Linked DNA regions of Homo sapiens: regions 1 and 2 are each linked to region 3. Evidence: fine-mapped expression QTL. A gene starts in region 3. Each other region holds a variant in brackets. All regions are shown on one strand. Distances are between the middles of the regions.

Region 1 (4,240 bases), 34 kb before region 3:
GGACAATTAGTATACCTGAGGAAAAAAACAAAATTACAGGAAAAAGAAATTAAATGCAGGCTGAGCACGATGGCTCATACCTGTAATCTCAGCACTTTGAGAGGCCAAGGCAGGAGGATCACTTGAGCCTAGGAGTTCAATACCAGCCCTGACAACAGAGTGACTCCCGTCTCTGCCAAAAATTTAAAAAATTAGCCAGGCATGGCCGGGCACGGTGGCTCACGTCTATAATCCCAGCACTTTGGGAGGCCGAGCCGGGCAGATCACGAGGTCAGGAGATCGAGACCATCCTGGCTAACACAGTGAAACCCCATCTCTACTAAAAATACAAAAAAATTAGCTGGGCGTGGTGGCGGGCACCTGTAGTCCCAGCTACTCAGGAGGCTGAGGCAGGAGAATGGCATGAACCCAGGAGGCCGAGCTTGCAGTGAGCCTAGATCGCCACTGCACTCCAGCCTGGGCAATAGAACGAGACTCCGTCCAAAAAAAAAAAAAAATTAGCTAGGCATGGTGGCGCATGCCTATAGTCTCAGCTACTTGGGAGGCTGAGGTGGGAAGATCGTTTTTGCCTGGGAGGTTGAGGCTGCAGTGAGCTGTGGTTGTGCCACTGTACTCCAGCTTAGGTGACAGAGTGATACCCTGTGTCTCACACAGACACACACACACACACACACACACACACACACACAATGTTAAATACAACAATATTTTATTAAAACAAAAGAAAATGTGAATCTACAGATTAAAATGGTGTTCTAGAAAATAAATATATAAATAAAAGGTTGATCCAGATTATGGTAAAAATATTTTCTCTGATAATTAAAAAAATGAATTTTGATTTAGGCAAAATTCAAAGGAAAAAAATTAAGTGGCTGATAGATTTTCCTAGCAACTCATCTGCCAGAAAGCAATGGAACAATATCTGTAGAATTTTAGATGGAAAATGTTAAGACTGGGAAATTCTATAAAATGTGATGGCAATAGAAAGATATTCTCAAACCTGCAGTCACATTCTGCCAAGAGAAATGGAGTGATGCTGGCCTGTCAGGTGGGGATGCCAGGCCATACTGGCAGACACTGTGTAGGGACAGCCTGTCACGTGTACTGCACAGCTTTACTCAAAAGACATCTTGCAAAATCCACAGATAACTTTTTTTTTCTCTAGTGACCTCTTCAATCTCTTCCAGAACAGATCACCCAGACTAGCCTCTTTGATAGCCTCCAGCTAATCATTAGAAAAATCACCCTGCCTAGGCTGGCACCTTTTTCTTCTGTCTTTATAAATCCTCCCACTGGTTTGTTTGTTTATTTATTTAGGTCTTTGTGCCTTGGTAAGAATCTAATGTCTGTCTCCTTGGTGTGCTTGTGAATTAGTTACCCAGCTCATGAAATATTTCTGAGTTATGCTTTGAGATTCACGGTCCTTCCTAGAAAGCCACTGGAAGACATGGTCCCCACAACCAAGAGATGAATTCAAATAAATGACTCACAAGCTGGGATGACCTGGGAGAAGAGACCTTGTGCTAAATAATTCATTTACTTAAAACATTCAATTAACTTAAATAATCAGAGCAACAAAATGGTATACAAATATTATAAATCTTGAAAGGAAGACTACAGAATGTAAAAACAAAAGCAATTTCTTTATCGCCATAAACTGGGACAGGAACCCCAGAGTACATTCCAAAGTATGGTGGGGAGGAGAAGAGGCGTATAACTATGGCAAAGTCAGTAAATGCTATGTTTTCCAAATAATTGCCAGAAGTTAGGGAAGTTGGTTAAGAAAGAAACACTGCCCATATAGAAAAATATAACTGGGGAGGGAGAGGAAGCCAGAAAAAAAAAAAAAAGTAACACCAAAGTGTTTCAAGCAAACCAGACGTGGGATAATTCAATTATATTACAAACATTAAAATGGATTAAAAAGAGGCCGGGCGTGGTGGCTCATGCCTGTAATCCCAGCACTTTGGGAGGCCAAGGCGGGCGGATCACTTGTGGTCAGGAGTTCAAGACCAGCCTGGCCAACATGGCAAAACCCTGAGTGTGGTGGCTCACGTCTGTAATCCCGCTACTGGGGAGATTGAGGCACGAGAATCGCTTGAACCCAAGAGACAGAGTTTGCAGTGAGCCGAGACTGCGCCACTGCACACTCCACCCTGGGTGACAGAGAGAATGTTTCAAAAAGCGAAACATTATTATATGTTCTTTACCCAACTCACAGTTAGAACAACTCTACGCAAATTCATTTAAGGATCTAAATAAAATGATCAAAACACCACACACGGCTAAATGGAGAAGCACAGAGGAACCATATTCACTTCAGGACAAGTCAAGGCTATGTACCCATGCCTCTAGTGTTTACCTTTTTTTAAAGAGGTATTAACAAAAGCAAATTGACAAAAAGACATAAAAACTGGAAAGTTTAGACATTTGAGGTGATCAACTTCTCATTGTTTGCAGAATATTTGTGTTTTTGGTGGTTTTTGTGTTTGTTTGTTGTTTGTTTTTGAGACAAAGTCTCCCTCTGTCACCCAGCCTGGAGTGCAGTGACAT[G/C]ATCGTAGCTCACTGTAACCTGGACTCCTGGGCTCAAGCCATCCTCCTGCCTCCGGTAACTGGAACTACAGATGCACACCACCACACCAGACTAATTTTTGTATTTTTTGTAGAGACGGGGGTCTCACTATGTTGCCCAAGCTGGTCCTGAACTCCTGGCTCAAGCCATCCTCCCGCCTCAGCCTCCCAAAGTGCAGGTATTACAGGCATGAGACACCACACCCGACCTTTGATTTTTTTTTTTTTTAACCTAAAAAATCCAAGAAAATCAACTAAGAAACTCTTATAAGCCACAGCTGTTTCCAGAAGTGAAGACCATTCTGGAGCCAAGGCGGTGGGAGTGATAAAAGGGCAGAGAAAGGCAGAGATGGTGGAGAAAGGGCCAAAACTAGAGAGGGAAAGTGGGAGAGAGGGGAGGGTGCGGAGGCGCAGGGGCTGGTGGGAGAGGGGAATGAGTCATCTTCCCTAGTTCTCGCTCTACCTGATTAGCCTGTGTGTGTGTGCCATGCCAGCCAGGAGAGTCCCCGCCACACCCCCCAAATCTCTGACACTTTTGTTGTCCCTCAGTTCCCAGGAGACCTCAACCTCTCCAGAGTTCTAGCCTCTTCTTAAAGGGCAGAGTCATGGGAACTCAGATGGAGTGAGGGGATCTCCTGTGAAGGTCTCCTTACAATGAAATGACTTTGCAGAAATTTGGACACTACCTCCAAATGCAGATTTATGGCCCGGCATGGTGGCTCATGCCTGTAATCCCAACACTTTGGGAGGCCGAGGCAAGGATATTACCTGAGGTCAGGAATTCGAGAGCAGCCTGGCCAACACGGTGAAACCCTGTCTCCCCTAAAAATACAAATTAGCCGGGCGTGTTGGTGGGTGCCTGTAATCCCAGCTACTCAGGAGGTTGAGGCAGGAGAATTGATTGAACCCAGGAGGCAGAGATTGCAGTGAGCCAAGATCGTGCCACTGCCCTCCAGCCTGGGTGACAGAGTGAGACTCCGTCTCAAAAAGTAAAATAAAATAAAATAATTTTTTAAAAAATCCAGATTTATTTTCCCTAGCTCGAAAGCCAACCTCACATCGAGCCTGTCTGTGGCCACACTGGGGCCCAAGGGGATGGAGGAAAAATAGATACTAAAAATGAATATTAAGCCTTTGTAACGGCATAAAAAGTACCTATGTTTAAAAGTTTAAAGGTTATGAAAAAAATGAAACAAAATTGATCTCATTTACTAAACAAAAGGCAATAGAGGCTGGGCACAGTGTCTCATACCTGTAATTCCAGAACTTTGGGAGTCGGAGGCAGGCGGATCACTTGAGGCCAGGAGTTCAAGACCAGCCTGGCCAACATGGTGAAACCCCATGTTTACTAAGAATACAAAAATTAGCCAGGTGTGGTGGTAGGCATGGCATCTGTAATCCCAGCTACTCAGAGGCTGAGGCAGGAGAATCGCTTGAACCCGGGAGGCGGAGGTTGCAGTGAGCTGAGATTGAGCCACTGCACTCCAGCCTGGGTGACAGAGCCAGGCTCCGTTTCAAGGAAAAAAAAAAAAAAAAAAGGCAATAGAAAAGACAGTGAAGGAAAATATACTGAAATGTGGGCAGTGGTTGTCTCTGAGTGCTATGATGATCGGTTGTTTCCTCTCTAGACTCCTGCTCTTTTCACATAAAATTGTCTGTAATGTATGTA
Region 2 (4,240 bases), 68 kb after region 3:
CTGAGGAGCCCATGGGCAGGGGCTGCAGGGAAATATTCTAGGGAAACCCAGAGCAGCACCTGCACCTTTCTTCTGGGGAAACATTGATGCATCTATAGATATCTATACATACCTGTATCAACATATAGAGAATATCCACAAAGATATAGGAAATATTCGAAGGTTCCCAGTAGAAATCCTGGGACTGAAAAAAATATAATAGCTGAAGTGAAAAATCCAGTAGAGAAATTCCACAGCAGATTTGATCAGGCAGAAGAAAGAATCCGCTAATTTGAAGACAGGAGAAAAGAACAGGCCAGATAGCCTCTGCTGTGTGCAAGGAGGGAAGGAACTGCTTCACAAAAGCAGACCTTCCCTTGCTTGTCTGTTCTCCTACTAGAGAAAGCAGTAGATGATCATATCTGAAGAGTATGTTGGTAACATCAAACATAAAAAGAAGGCAATTAAGGGTAAAATCCTGAGATATGTGTGAATTCATGACCAAATTAACTATGGAAACTTACATAAAGGAAGTGTAGAGGTTTTGTTTTTCTTTTTGCCCCTGTCCTCCCATTCTTCCCTGAAACAGCTCTGAGTAACACAGGCTGTGTTCTTGCTGTGACTCACACCTTCCTGCCTTCTCTTCCTTCAGGCTTGCTGAAGTCGGTGTGGGGTTGTTTCCTGCCTCTGACTCCCTGGAACTTAAAGTGACAGAGTCTTGGGGACTTGAATCCAGCACCTCCTTCTTCCCCTCCCTTTGGAGACAGGGACACTAGCACTGGGCTGGCTCACCCACAGCCTCCCGGGGGGTCCTCTGGCTGCACCTGGGGCTGCAGTTGGGCTCTGACAGAGCCGTCAAGGAAGGAGCAGTGGGTCCTCCTGAGAGGTGAGCTGGCCCTGGTTGTTAGGAAAGTCCTGTGGTCACTCTCCTGTGGCTTCCTCCAGCCCTGGCCCGATCTTCGCTTTCTCCCCTGAACTTCCCTGCATCCTCATGAGTGGGACCAGGTTGCTCAGCCCTGCAGGCATCTGGGAGACCCATTTCCTGTTTTCCTTGCCCTGGAGGAACCCCTCCCTCTTGCCTATAGCTCCTGGGAGGCCCAGGCGTGCTCCCATGCTGTTCCCCTTCCCCAGAGGGAAGGGAGTACTGCTCCGGGTCCCCCCTGCTTCTCACTTGCCCTCCCCATGAACTCCTCGGCCTCACTTGAAACCCTGGGCTGTGAGCTATGGTTTGAACCCTCCACAATCCTCCAGTCTCATCTTTCCTCTTCTTAGACTTGACCTTTCTTTCCTCCTGCTCTATTCTTCCTTTTTCCCACAAGCCAGCACTAGGCAGGGCTCACTGTGTGTGATACTTCATTACAGGCGACTCATTCTTCAGCTCTGTGCCCCTTTTCCTAACATTCGGACCCTGCCCAAAGCCCCCCACAAAACATAAAGTTAATAAACATCCTGTGAGTCCCCCTCCAAAGATTAAGAGGATGGCCTGTGTTCTCAAGATGGGCAAAGGCGAGAGTCCAGTGTCATGCTCCACCCAAATACCAGCCCCTCTCCCCAAAACCTCTATCACCAGTATGCGAAGGGCAAAGAAGTTGTGAATATTTGAGAATACATCTTTGGCCACATTTCTAATCACATTCATTAGGCAATTTTCTAGAAGAAGTAGAATATCGGCATTAACCCGTACAGGTGCGCGCGCGCACACACACACACACACACACACACACAGCTGTGATTCCTACCAACAGTGCATCACTTTAGATCTGACATCACTGTTCTTTGGATTTCATTTTTCCTAACTAGGAAAGAATTAGTTGACTTTGATGACATTTCTCTGATATATGTTTCATATATTGGTCAGTACTTTAAATTTCTTTGTTCAAATTCATTTTTTAGGATTTGTTTTGTCTAGAAAGACAGGCTTCATGCTTCCCAAATACTAATAACAGATTTCTGGTTTTTTAAATTTGCCTATTCTTTTTGTCTTAGATTTTAACGTACTGAAATTTTAAATTTTAAGTAGCTAAATCTATAGGTACACTTATTTTTTTCTTGGTCATAAACTTAGAAAGTCCATTGCCCAACATAAAATAAAATGAACTTCTCTAATTTCTTAAGGAGATTTTATTAAATCATTAGATTTGTAGCATATAGTGATGTAAAGTCCATGGACATTACTTTTGATATAGAAAGTGTGATGTTGCCCTTAATTTTTCTGTGTTACTCTCATCTGTCCAACCCCAGTGAGCGACTGATTATTCCTTCCTCTGAAC[C/T]TTGTGGTTTATGGTGTTTATGGCAGGTTCATTCCATAGCACGAAGGCGTCAATCATTAATCTATGGTGATTAATCCTCAGTCATCTCCCTGCTCTGAGCTGAGGGATGTGCTAGTGTTGAAAGTTCCATTGCTCTGATCACTGGCGGCCGGACCCTCTCCTCCAAGAGCCACCTCATGAGCATCAACTCAGGAATGCTGGAAGTCGTTTTATGATTAAAATAAATAAAGCCCCTCTCACCACAATTGCTCAGGAAACATCAGTGTTTTGAAGCTTTGGCCCCAAAACCAGGAGCAGAGAAAAAAACAGATGTTTCTTATTACGTCCCAGCCATGAATACCAAGAGAGAGGAACACTGGGGCCATTTCAGAAACTGCTTACCACAGGCCCCATGTGGGCTCAGGGGAGAGAGGCCCTGGCCTGGAGGAGGAAGAGTGAACGGGGAGTGTGAGTGACATTAAGTGTTTGCTAACGTGAGACTAGCTGGACCCTCTCTCTTCTAGTGGTCCCTGAATCAGAGCCTTAGCACTACATATTGGAGTCTGGATTGCCTGTTTCAGGAATCTGGTCTCTCAACAATCATTAGATTTCTGAATGAAGATTTAGCATAAACACCCTGTATATGATAAAACAAAATTTTAAAGATTATATTTAATTTGTTTCGAGGCCTTCACGAAAAATTTAAAGAAATTATACCACCACAACCCATATTGACATCTACTGACCCCTGGAAACCAGTAGAGGAATATGTTAGGAAAAAATATTCTGCCAGGGACCCATCTGATGTTGGCCTGACCACCTGAGCGCAGGCACTGGTCCCACTCATTAACAGATCTAAGAAACATGAGGTACCAGCCCTACTACCCAAAACCCTGAGTGCTATAGGCTCAGACAAAAAGGCAAAGTTCTAGCTAAGAAAATATTAAGAAATTGCCTGGCGCGGTGGCTCAGGCCTGTAATCCCAGCACTTTGGGAGGCCGAGGTGGGCGGATCACGAGGTCAGGAAATCGAGACCAACTAACACGGTGAAACCCTGTCTCTACTAAAAATACAAAAGATAAATTATCCAGGCGCGGTGGTGGGCGCCTGTAGTCCCAGCTACTGGGGAGGCTGAGGCAGGAGAATGGCGTGAACCCAGGAGGCGGAGCTTGCAGTGAGGCGAGATAGCACCACGGCACTCCAGCCTGGGCAACAGAGCGAGACTCCATCGAAAAAAAAAAAAAAGAAAATATTAAGAAATTGAGAGGTGACAGCATGCTGGCAGTCCTCAGAGCCCTCCCTTGCTCTCGGCAGGGCTCCCACTTTGGCGGCATTTGAGGAGCCCTTCAGCCCCCCCACTGCACTGTGGGAGCCCCTTTCTGGGCTGGCCAAGGCTGGAGCCCACTCCCTCAGCTTGCAGGGAGGTGTGGAGGGAGAGGCGCGAGCGGGAATCGGGGCTGCGTGCGCGCTTGCGGGCCAGCTGGAGTTCCGGGTGGGCGTGGGCTTGGCGGGCCCGCACTCGGAGCAGTCGGCCAGCCCTGCTGGCCCCGGGAAATGAGGGACTTAGCCCCCCGGGCCAGCAGCTGCGGAGGGTGTACTGGGTCCCCCAGCAGTGCCAGCCCACTGGCCCTGTGCTCGATTTCTCACCGAGCCTTAGCTGCCTTCCTGCGGCGCAGGGCTCGGGACCTGCAGCCCGCCATGCCTGAGGCCTCCCACCCACTCCATGGGTTCCTGTGCGGCCCAAGCCTCCCCGACGAGCACCTCCCCCTGCTCCATGGCGCCCCAATCCCATGGACCACCCAAGGTCTGAGGAGTGTGAGCACACGGCACGGGACTGGCGGGCAGCTCCACCTGCAGCCCCAGTGCGGGATCCACTAGGTGAAGCCAGCTGGGCTCCTGAGTCTGGTGGGGACGTGGAGAGTCTTTATGTCTAGCTCAGGGATTGTAAATACACCAATCGGCACTCTGTATCTAGCTCAAGGTTTGTAAACACACCAATCAGCACCCTGTGT
Region 3 (4,240 bases):
AGGTTAAAGCGGAATTTATTACAGCTAGGCAAGGCTAGTTCAATGTTCAAAAATCAATTAATATAATCCACCAACAGACTAAAGAAAAATCATATGATCATATTGCTAGATGCAGAAAAAGCATTTGACAAAATCCAACACCAGCTCATGATAAAAAGTCTCGGCACTCTAGGAATAGAGGGACACATCCTCCACTTGATAAAGAACATAAACAGGAACCTTACAGCCAACATAAGAATTAATGGTGAAAACCTAGATCGTTTTCCAGTGGAATCAGGAATAACACAAGAATGTCTGCTCACACCATTCCTAGTCAACACTGTACGGGAAATCCTAGCTAACACAGTTAGCCAAGAAAAAGAAATAAAAGTTGTACAGACTGAAGAGGAAGAAATAAAATGGTCTGTCTTTATAGAAGACATAATTATCCATGCAGAAAATTATGAAAGAATTGCCAAATCGATGTCCTGGAACTAAGAGGCAATGAGAACAAGATTGCAGATACAAAGTTAATGTATAAAAGTCAATTCCCATATACCTATAATGATCAAGTGGAATATGAAATTAAAAATGCAATACCATTTACATTAGCACCCCCCTATAAAACTTAGGTATAAATCTAACACGGTATGTACAAATTCTACATAAGGAAAACTACAAAATTCTGATGAAAGAAATCTATGAAGGACTAAATAAATACAGAGGCATTTTATATTCATGGACAGGAAAACTCAATATTATCAAGATATCAATTCTTCCCAAATTGATCTGTAGATCCAGTGAAATCCCAGTGAAAATCATGGCTAGTTATTTTGTGGATATCAACAAACTAATTCTAAAGTTTATGTGGAAAGGCAAAAGACCCAGAAGAGCCAACACAATATTGAACAAATAAGTCAGAGGACGGATACAACCCAACTTCAAGAATTACTATAAATCAACAGTAATCAAGATAGTGTGGTATTAGTTAAAGAATAAACAAATAGATAAATGGAACAGAATAGGAATCCCAGAAATAGGCACATGTAAATACAGTCAACTGACCTTTCGAAAAAAGAAAGGCAATACAATGGTTCAAAGAGTCTTTTCAACAATGAGCACTGGAACAACTGTACACCTACATGCAAAAACAAAAACAAATCCAGGTACAGATCTTACACCATTCACAAAAGCCAGCTCAAATGGATCATGGACTTAAATGTAAAAACACAAAACAATAAAACTCCTAGAAGACAAAACATCTAGATGACCTTGGGCATCATGATTACTTTTTAGATACAACACAAAAAGCATAATCCATGAAAGAAATAATTGATAAATTAGACGTAATTATTATTATTATTATTATTTGCTTTCTGAAAGACACTGTGAAGAGAATGTGAAGATAAGCCACAGACTGGTAGAAACTATTTGCAAAAGACATCTCTGATAAAGGACTGTTATCCAAAACACACGAGGAACTCTTAAGACTCAAAAAAAAAAGAAAAAGAATAACCCAGTTAAAACATGGATAAAAGATCTGAGCAGACCTCTCACCAAAGAAGATCTACCAACGGCAAATAAGTATATGATAATATGCCCAACATCATATGTCATTGGGGAACAGCAAATTAGACAAGAATAGCATACTACTACACACCTATTAGAATGGTGAAAATCCAAAATACTGACCACACCAAATGCTGGTGAGGATGCAGAGCAACAGGAACTCTCATTCATTGCTGGTGGAAATGCAAACTGGTACAGCTACCGTAAGGTTGGCCAAGAGAAAAGACGAGTATACTCAAAGTCAGGCAAGCAAGTTTATTGACCTGCCGGCCTGCTGCATAACAGTCAGAGGAGGCAGCCCAGGGTGTTTAAGGTGAGGGACTTATATAGGGCTTTGAGGGCCTAGGGGCTTTCTGAGGTTAGTCTACATCCTGCAGTTGTTTGTCACTTCTTGCCCCACCTGGCTTAGAGTACCAGGATGTGGTTTGGCCTGGGGGTGGATACAGCTGTACCTAAGTTCTGGTAACGTGAAGTAGGGGCAGCATCTCAGAAGAAATAAGCTGCAGGGCATTTAGGGGAGGGGGCTTGCTGCGTTCTTCTGTGGACAGGTTGTCTCTAAGAGCTACTTTGGAAGACAGTTTGGTCGTTTTTCACAAAATTAAACATTCTCTTCCCATGCAAGTTTACTTATAGTTTAACTTTGAAACAAAGTATAACAGTCCTTTCCCAAAACAAAACTCCTTACTGCCTGTGGACTAGACTGCCTAGACTGCCACAAGATTAGAAGTTATGGTAATTTTACTAAATCAAGATGTAGCTATTTTCATTAAACCAGTATCAATGTCTTATTTATTAATGGTTACACGAGCAGAGATCATTCTGTCTTGGGCTGGGTTTATAGCCTGTGCCAAATTTTGACACCTAATAGTATTTGGCAGGGTTAAGTATGAAATTGCTTGATTAATAAACGCAAATAAAAATGTATGCTGGCAATTCCTAAGACATTTCTAATATTACTTTACCAATAATTTTAAAGATAGCTTATTTATTAAAGATTTTACTTAAGTCACATAACTTGAAAAAGCATTTGACTAGTCTTTCCTTTTTCTAATAAAGTATTTGATGTAAATGCTTTTATTTTTTAAGACAATTAATTAGAGCTCTTTGATATATTTTCAGGAGTGCAACATTGTATACATAACATATAAATACATAGATGTATTAGGCATGCTGATAGAAGAAGTACATCTTACAGATTCATAAAAACCTTTTTTCTTTATCTTAGACTTTCAGATTCTTGATAACCTGTTTCACAGTGCTAGGCAGTAGTCAGCTAAATAGTCTTAAATTTGCATATTAAAGGAAACAACTCAGGTGAAAGTCAGATAGCAAAATTTACATTATAAGGTCTGAAGAGAAATTCTGTGAGCTAGAGGGAAATTAAAACAGATTTAATTGCCAATTGAACATAAAATTATAGAAATTTATCACTGGATTGTATAAGGAGACCACTGTTATTTAGATAGGGACTACCAATTCTTTTTTAACTGGATCTCTGAGCTCTGGGCAGAGCCCACACTGAATCCTGGGTCTCCAAAAAGGGAGAATTATTATGAGGCTAGACCACATGATGCTTTTACAGTGCACTTAAAACATTTTTGTAAACAAAGCATTTCTAAGTGTCTAAACTATACTCTTTCTTAAAAACCCAAGAGTAGCCTCTGTTGCAATAACTATTTTAGTAAAAAAAAAAAAAAAAATCGAGTGGAAACAGAATTGAGTCAATTGAGAACAAAAAAAGTTTTTGCTCAAAAAAAGACAAGGTCCTAGCAGAGAAAAACAAAAACAAAACCATGAAGGCCTTTTAAATATGAACATGCACTTATGCACACATACACATACACATACATTTTAAATATTAGCTTTTAATTAAGTTGACTTTTAACTATTGAGTGTCTTTAAAAATAAAAAATCTTGGGCTGGGTGCAGTGGCTCATGCCTGTAATCCCAGGACTTTGGGAGGCCCAGGCGGGCGGATCATGAGGTCAGGAGATGGAGACCATCCTGGCTAACATGGTGAAACCCCGTCTCCACTAAAAATACAAAAATTAGCCGAGTGTGGTGGCACGCGCCTGTAGTCCCAGCTACTCAGGAGGCTGAGGCAGGAGAATCGCTTGAACCCGGGAGGCAGAGTTTGCAGTGAGCCAAGATCGTGCCACTGCACTCCAGCCTGGCGACAGAGCAAGACTCTGTCTCAAAAAAAAAAAATTCAAAATTTTATTATTATATTTCAGCTAGGACAAATTGCTGCTATTTCAGAAGTACCAAGTATTGGTCCGGCGCGGTGGCTCACACCTGTAATCCCAGCACTTTGGGAGGCCGACGCTGGTGGATCACCTGAGCTCAGGAGTTCGAGACCAGCTTGACCAACATGGAGAAACCCCATCTCTACTAAGAAATTCAAAAGGCACATGCCTATAATCCCAGCTACTCGGGAGGCTGAGGCAGGAGAATTGCTTGAACCCGGGAGGCGGAGGTTACGGTGAGCTGAGACCACGCCATTGGACTCCAGCCTGGGCAACAAGAACGGAACTCTGTCTCAAAAAAAAAAAAAAAAAAAAAAAAAAAGCAGAAGTACCAACTATCAAACCAGAAAGGACTTGATTTAGGAACCAAACTTAGGCTGTCATGAAGACAGGAGAAAAAAAAAGGCAGAACCTTAGCTATTGAACTGCAGAGTAGGGGGACAGCC

The links. PIP is the estimated chance that this variant, and not a neighbour inherited with it, causes the effect. A credible set is the group of variants that fine-mapping cannot tell apart.
Region 1: its variant is the best candidate, but not a certain one, in a credible set for the expression of CHMP7 in tibial artery (GTEx, PIP 0.62).
Region 2: its variant is the best candidate, but not a certain one, in a credible set for the expression of CHMP7 in whole blood (TOPMed, PIP 0.83).

The regions. Positions count from the first base shown.
Region 1 is chr8:23,274,944-23,279,183 of GRCh38, reverse strand. No RefSeq gene overlaps it. Among named protein-coding and RNA genes, the nearest start is that of R3HCC1, 11 kb to the left of the region's middle. The variant G/C (reference allele first, on the strand shown) is at 2,554.
Region 2 is chr8:23,173,602-23,177,841 of GRCh38, reverse strand. No RefSeq gene overlaps it. Among named protein-coding and RNA genes, the nearest start is that of TNFRSF10D, 12 kb to the right of the region's middle. RefSeq lists enhancers at 843-1,399, 3,741-4,240. The variant C/T (reference allele first, on the strand shown) is at 2,250.
Region 3 is chr8:23,241,244-23,245,483 of GRCh38, reverse strand. CHMP7 (charged multivesicular body protein 7) reads right to left here and starts at 1,847. Exons shown (of 11, transcript NM_152272.5): 1 at 1,640-1,847. RefSeq lists an enhancer at 1,654-2,155.